2 separate regions of the Homo sapiens genome follow, and region 1 is reported to be linked to region 2. The links are microRNA targets in miRTarBase. Many come from high-throughput screens and were not tested one by one. Region 2 holds a microRNA gene; the other region holds the end of a gene's coding sequence.
The links. The annotated mature microRNA hsa-miR-4787-5p reads GCGGGGGUGGCGGCGGCAUCCC and lies in region 2 at 3,724-3,745, opposite strand. An mRNA with a match to its seed (bases 2 to 7 or 8) in the 3' UTR can be bound and repressed. Matches are read on the target gene's strand: a 7mer-m8 pairs with bases 2 to 8, a 7mer-A1 pairs with bases 2 to 7 and ends in A, and an 8mer does both.

Region 1: miRTarBase lists GATAD2A as a target of hsa-miR-4787-5p. Seed matches in the 3' UTR shown: 7mer-m8 at 1,144-1,150.

The regions. Positions count from the first base shown.
Region 1 is chr19:19,505,071-19,510,386 of GRCh38, forward strand. GATAD2A (GATA zinc finger domain containing 2A) reads left to right here. Exons shown (of 12, transcript NM_001384528.1): 12 at 274-3,862. The coding sequence ends at 404. Among named protein-coding and RNA genes, the nearest start is that of TSSK6, 7.8 kb to the right of the region's middle. RefSeq lists an enhancer at 1-423.
Region 2 is chr3:50,673,468-50,678,837 of GRCh38, reverse strand. It overlaps MIR4787 (microRNA 4787), which reads right to left and starts at 3,758; the gene lies at 3,675-3,758. It overlaps DOCK3 (dedicator of cytokinesis 3), which reads right to left and starts at 3,911. Exons shown (of 53, transcript NM_004947.5): 1 at 3,538-3,911. The coding sequence starts at 3,574. RefSeq lists a silencer at 3,658-3,947.

The DNA of each region.
Region 1 (5,316 bases), not on the chromosome of region 2:
TAGCTGCTCACCCTCTGATGATTGCCCCACACTTGGGATTACCTTGGCAGAGCCTGGCAATGTCAAGGCCATTGAGTTGCTGCCTAAATACTCTTCAGCTCTGGGGGGGCCTGGGATTTGAAACGTTGATTGAGGAGTAGTGTGGGTGGGTTTGCAAGGGCTCCTGGGTCCTTAGTCTGTATTGGGGCTGGGGTCTAGGCAGCTATGGCTGGGCTCCTCCCAGGAGCCCTCCTGACGAGGGCCTTCTCAGCTGGTCGCTCTGTTCTGTTGCAGGCGGGACCCTTGCGTTTGTCAGCCCAAGCCTGGCGGTGCACAAGAGCTCCTCGGCCGTGGACCGCCAGCGAGAGTACCTCCTGGACATGATCCCACCCCGCTCCATCCCCCAGTCAGCCACGTGGAAATAGTGCGAGCCAGGCCCCGTGGAAGACGGGCTCCCTCCTCCCCCACCTGGCCCCTGGTCTAGAAGGACCCACTGCACCACCCTCCGCTGGCTCGGGAAGACACCGTGCCCGCCCCAAGAGCAAGCACCGGCCATGCTGCAGAGGCAAGACCTCAATTCTTGGCTGCAAAGTTTCATCAGGGCTAGGGGGCTGGTGCCGCCTCATAGGCAGACGAGGATCATCGCTGGGGGACCTTTCCCGTGGGCTTTCTTCCTTTCTCTCTTTGCCTTTAGTTTGCCCGACACCAGCAGAAAAGTGGACCTTGGGGGCTGGTTCTGCTCCTGGCCCCCTTGTTCAGCCCCTGCCGGCACACGGGCGGCTCACCCTGGACACTGTGATGCGCATGGGCAAGGCCAGCGCCCGGGGCTTCTGAACCGAGCGGGGTGTTTCATTTTTTTGCTTTTCCCTGTCTTAGGCTCCCAGTCTTTGACTGCCTTCCCATGGCGATCTATAAGTTGAAAGATTTTTTTTTTTTTTAATCACCTCATGATGATGGAGTTAAAAGTAAACCGTGCAGACCCTGGGGTCCCTGTTGTACGCTGCATCATCCCGCTGGCCCTGTGCCCTGGAGGGTGGGCGGCTCATGGTGCCACAGCCCCTGGCAGGGACGGCCGGCCCGCCCCCGTGACTGACTGACAGATGCAGGGATGGCCGAGGCAGCCCTCGCTCCAGCTGAACGCCTCCATTGCTGCTTGTTCTGGAGACCCCCGCCCCCGCACCTTCCAGACTTAGCAGAAGAACAAACTGAAGAACAGACCCAGCCAGAGAAGCAGGGATTCCAGAAGCTGCCCATTAAGGGAGAAGGAGAGGATCCGGTCGGCAGCAGCCCTGAGCAGAAAGCTGGAGGGGGGACTGTCGCGGGGTTTTTCTGTTGTGGTTTATTTTATTAAATTTTTTCCTTTTTTCTATTCATTTCGATGGACGCAATCTTAAGCCACCCTGGCCTTGCTCCTGGGAGGTGAGCGTGCACAGGTGTGTGCAGGTCAGGAGGTGCCGTCCAGGTGTGCGGCGAGCCGCTGCGCACAGATGTCAGGATTTCCGTTTGGGTCTAGTTTAGAACCTGTCCTTAAACCTAGGGGTTGCTGTCAGGATTTGCTTTCAGACTTTTTTTTTTTTTGTAATTCCCTTTAGAGTCTACAAAAATGTTTTTAAAAGGATCAGGTCTGCTTTTAGTTTCATTTTTGTTTCTTTCCCGTCCCACTCTTTAAAAACTGGTTCCGTGAGGAAAGGCAGAAGCCGTTCCGTGTCTCTTGCAGGCTGGGCCGGCTTCATGCCAGTGCGAGGGCGTCCCGTGCCCACGTACATACGTATGTCTCCATGAGTTCTGGGCTCCACTGGTTCCAATTGAGCTCCAGCCCTGGTTTTCCTACCCATGCAGTTAGGGACTTTAATTTAATTTTTTTTTTGTAGGGCCACCGCCTTCAAACACAACTGCTACAACATTCTAATAAAGGCTCATTTAACCCCCAGGCTCCTGTCGTGTGAATATCCTCAGTCTGTAGGAAACTTTTTTTGACACAGCATAGAAGACCTAGTTTTGGAAAACATTATCTAATTTTTTGTTGTGCAAATCCCCAAATTTCTCACTAATTTTTGTTTTTTTGTGCATAACTTGGATGGGCTGAAGGAGGTGAGGACAGATTGGGGAAGGGTGGCTTTCATTCCAAGATCCAGGGATTTGGGGAAAAGGAAGGAATTTGATGTTTTTTGGGGTGGGAGGGGAGGGTGTGTTTTTTACACCAAAAAAAAAAAAAAAAATCAAGAGTATGCAAGCATTTCTATTCCTCGCATTTTTCTGTGTGCCTGGCAAATAAATACCTGTCTCCTACGACCCTGAGCTGTTAGCCCTCTCTGTTCCATGACAGGGGCCAGATCTTCCAGCTCCTCCCAGAAGGAGCACCCAGGCTGGCTTCTTCCCACTGAAAGCCCTCCCCAGCGAACCAACCTCAGTTCTATGCAGTGGCTGGGGATCAGGCATCCAGACCGAAGTCACCTCTGCCTGCTCCAGCTTGGGTCAGCTGGGTCTGACCAGGGGGCCAGATCCGAGCCGCACCTGCCGGCCCCCAGCCCCAGCTCCAGCTCCTGACCTCTCCCAGCCTGGCCTGGCTGTTCCTCCAGGGCTGATGGCTGTCAACCCATCCTTGTGAGTTCATATGGACTGCTGCCCCTCGAAAGGGAGAGGGTCGGCCCCATGTCCCCAGGGAGCATTCCATCAGGGACAACGTACATACTGTGATGTAAACTTTTTTTTTTTCCCCCCAGGGGGCAAAAGTGTGAGATGCCTTAATCTTTCCTTCATTTCTGCTGTCTCGAACACTCTAGCCCATTATTTCCTTTCAGTTCCTTGCAGCATAACCTCTACGATAAGCCCCAAGCGGGTTGTTGTATTATGACGTTTATGATGTTCCAGGTGAAGGCATTATTAAGTACCTCTCTGGGTGTGGGGTTTGGACGCACCAGGATAGCTATTGATTAATGTTAAGGGTGTTCTACCCACAGCAAAGCACACCCTCTTAAACCAGGCACTGCCTGGGTCCTGGTCCCGAGAGCCCTACCAGGATCAGGTTCCTGCAAGCCGTCAGAATGTGGGAGCCCCCAGCCCAACTGATTGTAACTGTCCCCTGTTACCTGTGACATGAACCTCCAACAGCACCTGGAAACGGTTCCCTCTGTCAGCTGCTCTGTAGACAGGGCTGGGGAGATCTCAGAGTTCACACCTCGCCTGTTGTAGGGGAGGTTGGGGGTAGGGTTTGGAATGGCCAAGTGCCCTTGGAACCTCCCACAGCTATGGCCGTCCTGACCTCATCCCAGGAACTCTACGGTGACCAGGAACCACCCCTCTGACGAGGTCTGTAGCGGCCCTTCTCAGAGTGGAACAGCCCACAGTGCTAGTTGTGCCTGGTCTTACCTGTACTCCACGGACCTCGGTGAAGCAAAAGCTTCAGGGCAGAGGGAATGAGGCAACCCAGTGGCAGCCCCGCTGGGCCCCGTGGCTCCTGCTCTCCTATTGGACGTAGAGGCAGGGGAGAGACTTCTCTATACAAATATTCTCATCACAGAAGGGATGATCCTTGCTGCTCTGCCGTAGGGTTTTTGATGCTGAGCTATGCTGCACATGACGTTAACCTAAAGAACTTGGACTGAGCTTTTAAAAAAGGACAGCAAACAATTTTATAATCCTTAAAGTGTAATAGACGGTTACACTAGTGCAGGGTATTGGGGAGGCTCTTTGGGTGTGGAGGCTGTCACTTGTATTTATTGTGACTCTAAATCTTTGATAGTAAAACAAATGTAAAAAGAAATGTTTGCCACCAGATGGGAATAGAAGTTCCAATAAGCAGGCTGGAATGGGTGGCTATACGTTGTATCACGAGGAAGTTTTAGACTCTGAAGGATAATAAATGGATGATGTGTCAACTGGACTTTTCTTTTGTCCCTTCTGCCCTGGCTTCTCTGTATTGTTTCGTCCTAGCTTCCCAGGCAGGTTGGAGGGAGATGGAGGATGACCCTTAGTTAATGAGAGAAGCAAAGGGCGGGGTGCATCTGCTGCTGGGGCCTCACTTACTGTGGGGATGGAGTCCCCACGGCCCCTCTCCTCTGGAGCTTTGTGGCAAACTTACCCCATGGGCTGGGAGAGAGGAATGAGAATCTCAGTGGGGGCTGGGTTTGGTGGCTCACATTTGTAATCCCAGCACTTTGAGAGGCTGAGGTGGGTGGATCACCTGAGGTCAGGAGTTCGATACCAGCCTGGCCAACATGGTGAAACCCCATCTCTACTAAAAATACAAAAATTGGCCGGATGTGGTGGTGGGTGCCTGTACCCCAGCTACTTGGGAGGCTGAGGCAGGAGAATCGCATGAACCCGGGAGGCAGAGGTTGCAGTGAGCCAAGATTGCGCCACTGCACTATAGCCTGGGTAAGAGACCGTGACTTTCTCAAAAAAAAAAAAAAATTCTCAGTGGAATTTGCTTGTGTTTGCTGCATCAGCCTTCACGCTAGAGTGGTGGGTTTTCCTGGAGCAATTTTCAGGCTGGGGGCCTCGATGGTGTCTTTGCTGCAGGATGTGATATTACAGATGTGCAATCTAAGCACAGAGTCACCAACCTGGATCCAAAATGAACGACGTCCTGGCAAAAATGTTTTCAAGTGTTGATAGTTTCAAGTTTTATTCTTAAGGTGAGACCTGGGATCATTTTGCTGAATTTTAATGTGCATAAAACATGACCCTGTTTTCCTAGGTGCTATTTATTTGAGGCAGGGTCTCACTCTGTTGCCCAGGCTGGAATGCAGTGGCTTGATCTCAGCTCACTGCAGCCTCAACCTCCCTAGGCTCAGGTGATCCTCACATCTCAGACTCCTCAGTAGCTGGGACTATGGGCATGCACCACCATGCCCAGCTAATTTTCGTATTTTTTGCAAAGACACATTTTTGCCATGTTGCCCATGGCTGGTCTTGAACTCCTGGACTCAAGCAGTCCTCTCACCTTGGCCTCCCAAAGTGCTGGGATTACAGGTGTGAGTCACCACGCTTGGCCGTTTCTTGTCTTTGAAGCATCCTTGCCTCCGGCCTGGGAGCTCATACCTTCCCCACAACTCCCAAGTGCCTGGTCTTATGGGCACAGAGCTGGTAGAGAACATGGTAGAAACTGAACCTCAGCCTGTCCAGTAGCGCGATCTTGGCTCATTGCAACCTCCGCCTCCCAGGTTCTAGCGATTCTTCTGCCTCAGCCTCCCGAGTAGCTGGGATTACAGGTGCCGCCACCAGCACGCCCAGTTAATTTTCAGTAGAGATGGGGTTTCACGTGTTGGCCAGGCTGGTCTCAAACTCCTGATGTGATCCACCGGTCTCAGCCTCCCAAAGTACTGGGATGACAGG
Region 2 (5,370 bases):
ACTCCGTCTCAAAAAAAGAAAAAAAAAAATTAGGCAGGCAAGGTAGTAAACACCTGTAGTCCCAGCTACTTGGGAGACTGCTGCAGGGGGATCGCTTGAGCCCAGGAGTTCAAGGCTGCAGTAAGCTATGATCATGCCGCTGCACTCCAGCCTGGATGACAAGAGCAGGACCCCACCTCTCAAAAAAAAAAAATTGCCTAATGACAGCAGCAGAATAAACAAGATGACCTTCTGAAGCAGCTTCCACTTCTAAGACGTCAAACTAATACCTATGTACTCAAACCTTTACCACTTTTCTATTCAAGGAGTGTAATTACAAACATTTTTGTTTTAAAAACTGTTGGTGCTTGCTGCTCCTGCTGTTGCTCCTGTTAGAGGGTGAGAAAAGCATTTTCTTGGTTTTTGTATTCTATATTTGGTACTCTGGGTACAGTCAGTATAGGGAAAGACAGGTGTTTCACAAAAATAGCTGGATTTTTCTCACCTAATACACTTTAGAGCAGGAAGCTTCTTGGAAAGGTAGAATAAAGAATGGAAGGATGCAGGACTTTCCAAGCATTCATGGCAACAGAAAGGAAAGCAGAGATTCTCTAAGAGGGAAAGGGACATAAGAAGTCAAAACACGGGCGAACGGGTACAGTAAAGAACAGTACCTTACAGTACCACAAAAAGAAAGCAAGACAGTCAAGTATTTCACAAAATACTGCCCACTGCCAAGAAGAAAATTAAGAAAAATATACAATCGTTGAAGGACAAAAAAAAAAAAATTAACAACCTTTGGGATCCAGTTTCTTTATCTGTGTAATAATGATAACATTAAGACTACTCTGGGAATCGACATGGGGTTACCTAAGTGAGAGTCCCAGGCACACTGACAGGCCTATCACTGACCCTCAGAAAGGATAATGTCCTCCCCACTGCCTAAAATCACTCACAGAATATTACAATGGAAAGGGGGGCTCAGTCATCACCTCATCCTAAATGAATAAACCAAACAATTCAGTCATGTTATAACCTGTACAGAATTCCTATATTATAAAAAATTTAATAAGTATTACTACAGGATCTCAAAGCCTTATCAATGTCAAATACAAATGAACAGCTGCAGTGGAAAAAACCCTTTGTACTGCTGCAACAGGGGACTCCTTCCCTCACTAACATCAGGGCAAAAGGAGGCCCTCGAGGCCCTCCTCCACAAATTTCTCCAAATTGGTAGGAAGTAAGTGTAAGGGGTTTCCCTCCTTGCTATGTGATTATAGGTTGACAAACAAAGACACAAATCTGTGCTCCAAGTTAGTCATAAAAATCAAAGCTGAAACTCAAACATTTTCTCACAGGAAAATGATAATGGTTATATTTTCAAGCTAGCCCTCATAGCAATCAAATGATGCAGCAAAAATGCCGTTTTAATTGACTATTTTTCTCATAAGTATAATGTATAAGCTACTTTATAAAGTGGATTTTATGAAAAGTTCTAGAAGTGTAGCCCTAACATCCTTATGAAAAAAAATGTGTCCTGAGTTTTAAACAATTTACACAAAAACTTTTAGATCATAACTAAGGAAGGGACAGTGGAAGACTGTGAGATAAATAGAGAGTTGCTTGGTTTGGTAGAAAAGGCATCTAAGTTATGCTAAACCACAGCTGCTATGAAAATGTCTTCAGTGTAACTGTCTCTCTCATTTAGCAAGCATTAAGCTCTGCCCTGAGCCCAATGCTGTGGCCCTCCAAAGGGAATAACAATTTTTCTAAAGCTAAAAACACAATCCTAGGAATGCAAGAATTTCGTTGCATCTTGCTGGGAAAATCACACACCAAATCCTAGTGCTTTGAGATTCACATGTACCTATCTTGATTACCTTGCACTGGCTCTGTCTCAGAACACACTTAGTGTTATTAGTCTAAATACTAAGGGAAAAGAAGAAACTATTAAGCATTCAGCACGTTCTCATTTCACTTTCACAATCCTGTAAGATAGGTAAACATTATCCCCAATTTATACATTAATAAAATGACGTTAAATGATGTTAAATTACTTGCCCACACCACCAGTAAAGAGAAGCTAGGACTCTGAATTCCACTTTGTCCACTATTCAAGGGCTCCTCCCCCCACGCCCCCACCCCCGCCAAAATAGGGCTCCTCCCCCCTCCAAAAAAATCAATCATGGGGTGCCACTGGAGAGTTGACCACTCACATCAATTATTTGTTATTCTAGTTCAGCAGTTCTGGGAGCGAGTTATGGAGAAGATAAACCACCAACTCCTCACTTCACAGAATCAACTCAGTATTCAGGGAATACTCTAAGAGAAGGGGTAAAATGTCCCTAGAGGTGAATCCCAGCTCTTCGCATCATTTCTCAATTCCTTCTCAATAGAGACTCTAGGACCAGAGCTCCCTTTATCACCTCCATCCTAACATACCTAATTGTTTCAGAAAGTTACCTTTTAAAACAAGATCTTCTACCAGAATAGAAGACCTCTCTGCTGGTCCTCGAATTTAAATAAATTCAATTTTCACACGATAACCTGCCTGATAGCATTCCAAAACATTCGTTACCACTGCAGTTTCAAGTTATTTTGTAGTGAATTGTGAACTAAATCTTGATTAAATTGCGGTAAAGATGGGAAACAAAAATCTATGTTTAGACAGGTTTCCTATCTAAAATTTTCCATTACGAGCTTAGGAAAAACAAAACCTGTACACTCAACATTTTAAATCTGTTTCTAACTGAACAAGATGATAGGTGATGCAATGAGGCTTAACTCTATCATGTAATTGCCACAAAACACTAACATTGTAAAACATTCAATACTTTAAATTACTGAATATTCTTTTTAAAGAAGTTGAATATTGTAAGAATTATTTAGCTTCTGGAGTTTAACACTTACAACATTAAAAAAAGGTTTCTAAGAGGAATAAGGTCTCATCTGAAAACAGGGTTTAAAAAAAAAACCGTATAAACATTGATACATGTCCAAAAACATTTCCCATCGTAAGGTATTATTTCTAATACTAAAGGCAAAACAAATTAAAACAGATCAAACATTTGCAGTCAAATGTCCAAATTTTTGAACTGGGAAAATGATGTCAACGTTTTTCATCCGTTTTCTTGTAAGGTTCCAGATCAAAAATAAACAGCCATCGGGCTCATCAATTCAGGTGCGGAAACTCATTAAAATCGAGCTTTTGGAGGGGAGAAAACATATTCCCAGAATTTGGTTTATCGGGTAAAATTGCCCCGTGGCCCACACCAGAAACCTCGGGCAACTGCCCGGGCCTTGCCCACCCCTCCCGCGGGCCGCACCTGCCAAGGCCGCACCGCCAGCGCCCCCTGCCGCCCTCTCTGCACAGAGACCCGCGCCCACCCCCGCACCCGCACCCGCACCCGCACCTGCCCCCACCCCGCGCTCGCCCCGCGCCGAGGCCGCGCAGCCTGCGGGCAGTGGCGGGGGCACGAGGATGCGAATCCAGGCGGGGCCGGGAGCTGGGCGCGTCCCCCAGAACCCCCGCCACGGCCAGGCCTGAGCCTCACCTACCTACGCCGTATTTCTCCTCCTCCGTGGGGGTCCACATGGCCGTGCCGGGCGCGGCCCCGCGGGCGCGGCGACCGGGCGACAACGCGGCGGGGACGGCCGCGGGCCCGGCTGTGGCGCACCGCGAGTCGAGGCGGGGACGGTCAGGCGGCGCGGGGCAGTGGGCGGCGCATCCCTCACAGGCCGTCCGGGATGCCGCCGCCACCCCCGCCACGTCTGGACCGCGAGGCTCCGCGGGTGGCCCAGCAGCCCCTGGCGGCGCGGGCGAAGGCTCGCCACCTGTCCGTCGCCGCTGCTCCCGTGCCGCCGCTTGCTTCTTCACAGCTCCGCCGCCCGGCTCCCGGCGCCGCCGCGGCTCGGCTCGCCCCAGCGGGCTCGCAGGACGCCCGCGCATGCGCCACTCCCTGCCGCGCAGGGGCTCGCGCTGCCCGGGCTCGCGCCGTCCCGAGCCCGCGCGCGAATCCACGCGCCGCTGCTGCGCGCCAGCGGAGGGAAATCCGCGAGAAGCTATTGGACTGCCCGGCCCCGGACCGGCTTCTAGAATCGCTGGTCCGGGGCCCTCAGCTGCAGCAAACCCCGGAGGGGGCGAAGCCGGTCAGGTGGGCGACTCCCTCTACCCGGACTCCCCACTCGCTTCCGCTTCCAGTGCCTCCTGCCTGCGCCCCGAGATGGCCACAGGCCTCCTGGTCGGAGAGGGGAGATCCAGAAAAGGAGGACACGACACCATTTTCAGACCCATCCCAGTGTCACCCACAGTGCTGTCGGAAAGGTCCCCGGAGCCACCCTGTGCATTCCCAGGGCCCGCAGGATGGAGTCGCCACGAGGGAACCAGGTGGGGTGCACTCGTGCCCCTCTCTCCTGGATCCCCTGTGGGCTGAGGCCGCTGACACCTCCTGGGTTCTTGCTTCTCTGAGATGGCCTGAGTGGTGAATGTTTGGGGCCAGAACAATCAACAGCCGCCTTGCTAGTAAGGAAGAGCTTCATTGGGCCCTTCGTGTTCCTACCCAGGACACGGCATCTGCTGCTCCTGGGTGTCTGCCTCCCTTGGAGCCCTAAGAACTGGCTCCTACCGGAAACTTTCCTCCTCTCTCTCCTCCCTAAGAATCCATTCATTCTGATGCCTGTAAATGTCACCTTGTGACCCCCAAGTCAACCACTTACCAAAGAACAGGAACTGCAGGACTTCTCCTTTCCACCTACATTTGGACCACATGCTCTAATCCCAGCAGATTTGCCCATCTCTGTCACTAGCACTACTAAGTCAAAACCCTGGTGTCATCCTTCACTAGCACTCTCAGACACCACCACTCTTCAAAGCCCAGCTCAGCCCCTCACCTCCAGGAAGCCTGCCCTGACCCATAGTCTCCTTTCCTTCTTTGTCTGGAATTGGAGCTATGTTCGGTTTGTCTTATTTCCCTTATAAGACTGTCAGCTCCCAGAAGGCAAGCTCCAGGCTAAAATCAACTTTCTAAACCCTCACCACCAACCCAGCACCTGTTGTATAGTTGTTGCATGGGAAGCCAGACTAATAGAAGAATATCTTGCAATCAACAGATCTTGTTGATTCTTCGTTCAAAGTGTCATGATTGGTAACTCCTCCCAGGCCTGACTGTGCTCCCCTGGGTTATGGCCACCCCTTCCCACCTTCGGACCTTTAGGCTCCTCCTCTCACTAATCATAGCTGCCCACTCCCGCCCAGAAAAATGTCTGTTCTGTGAATGATAGAATTTCTCAATAGCCAGGTACACTTCTTTTTAGGGGTAGCAGGGGTGTCCAAGAACATAACGAAAGAGCTAACTGTTCCAAGAAGATAGACCCCTCCCCGGTGGCCACCAT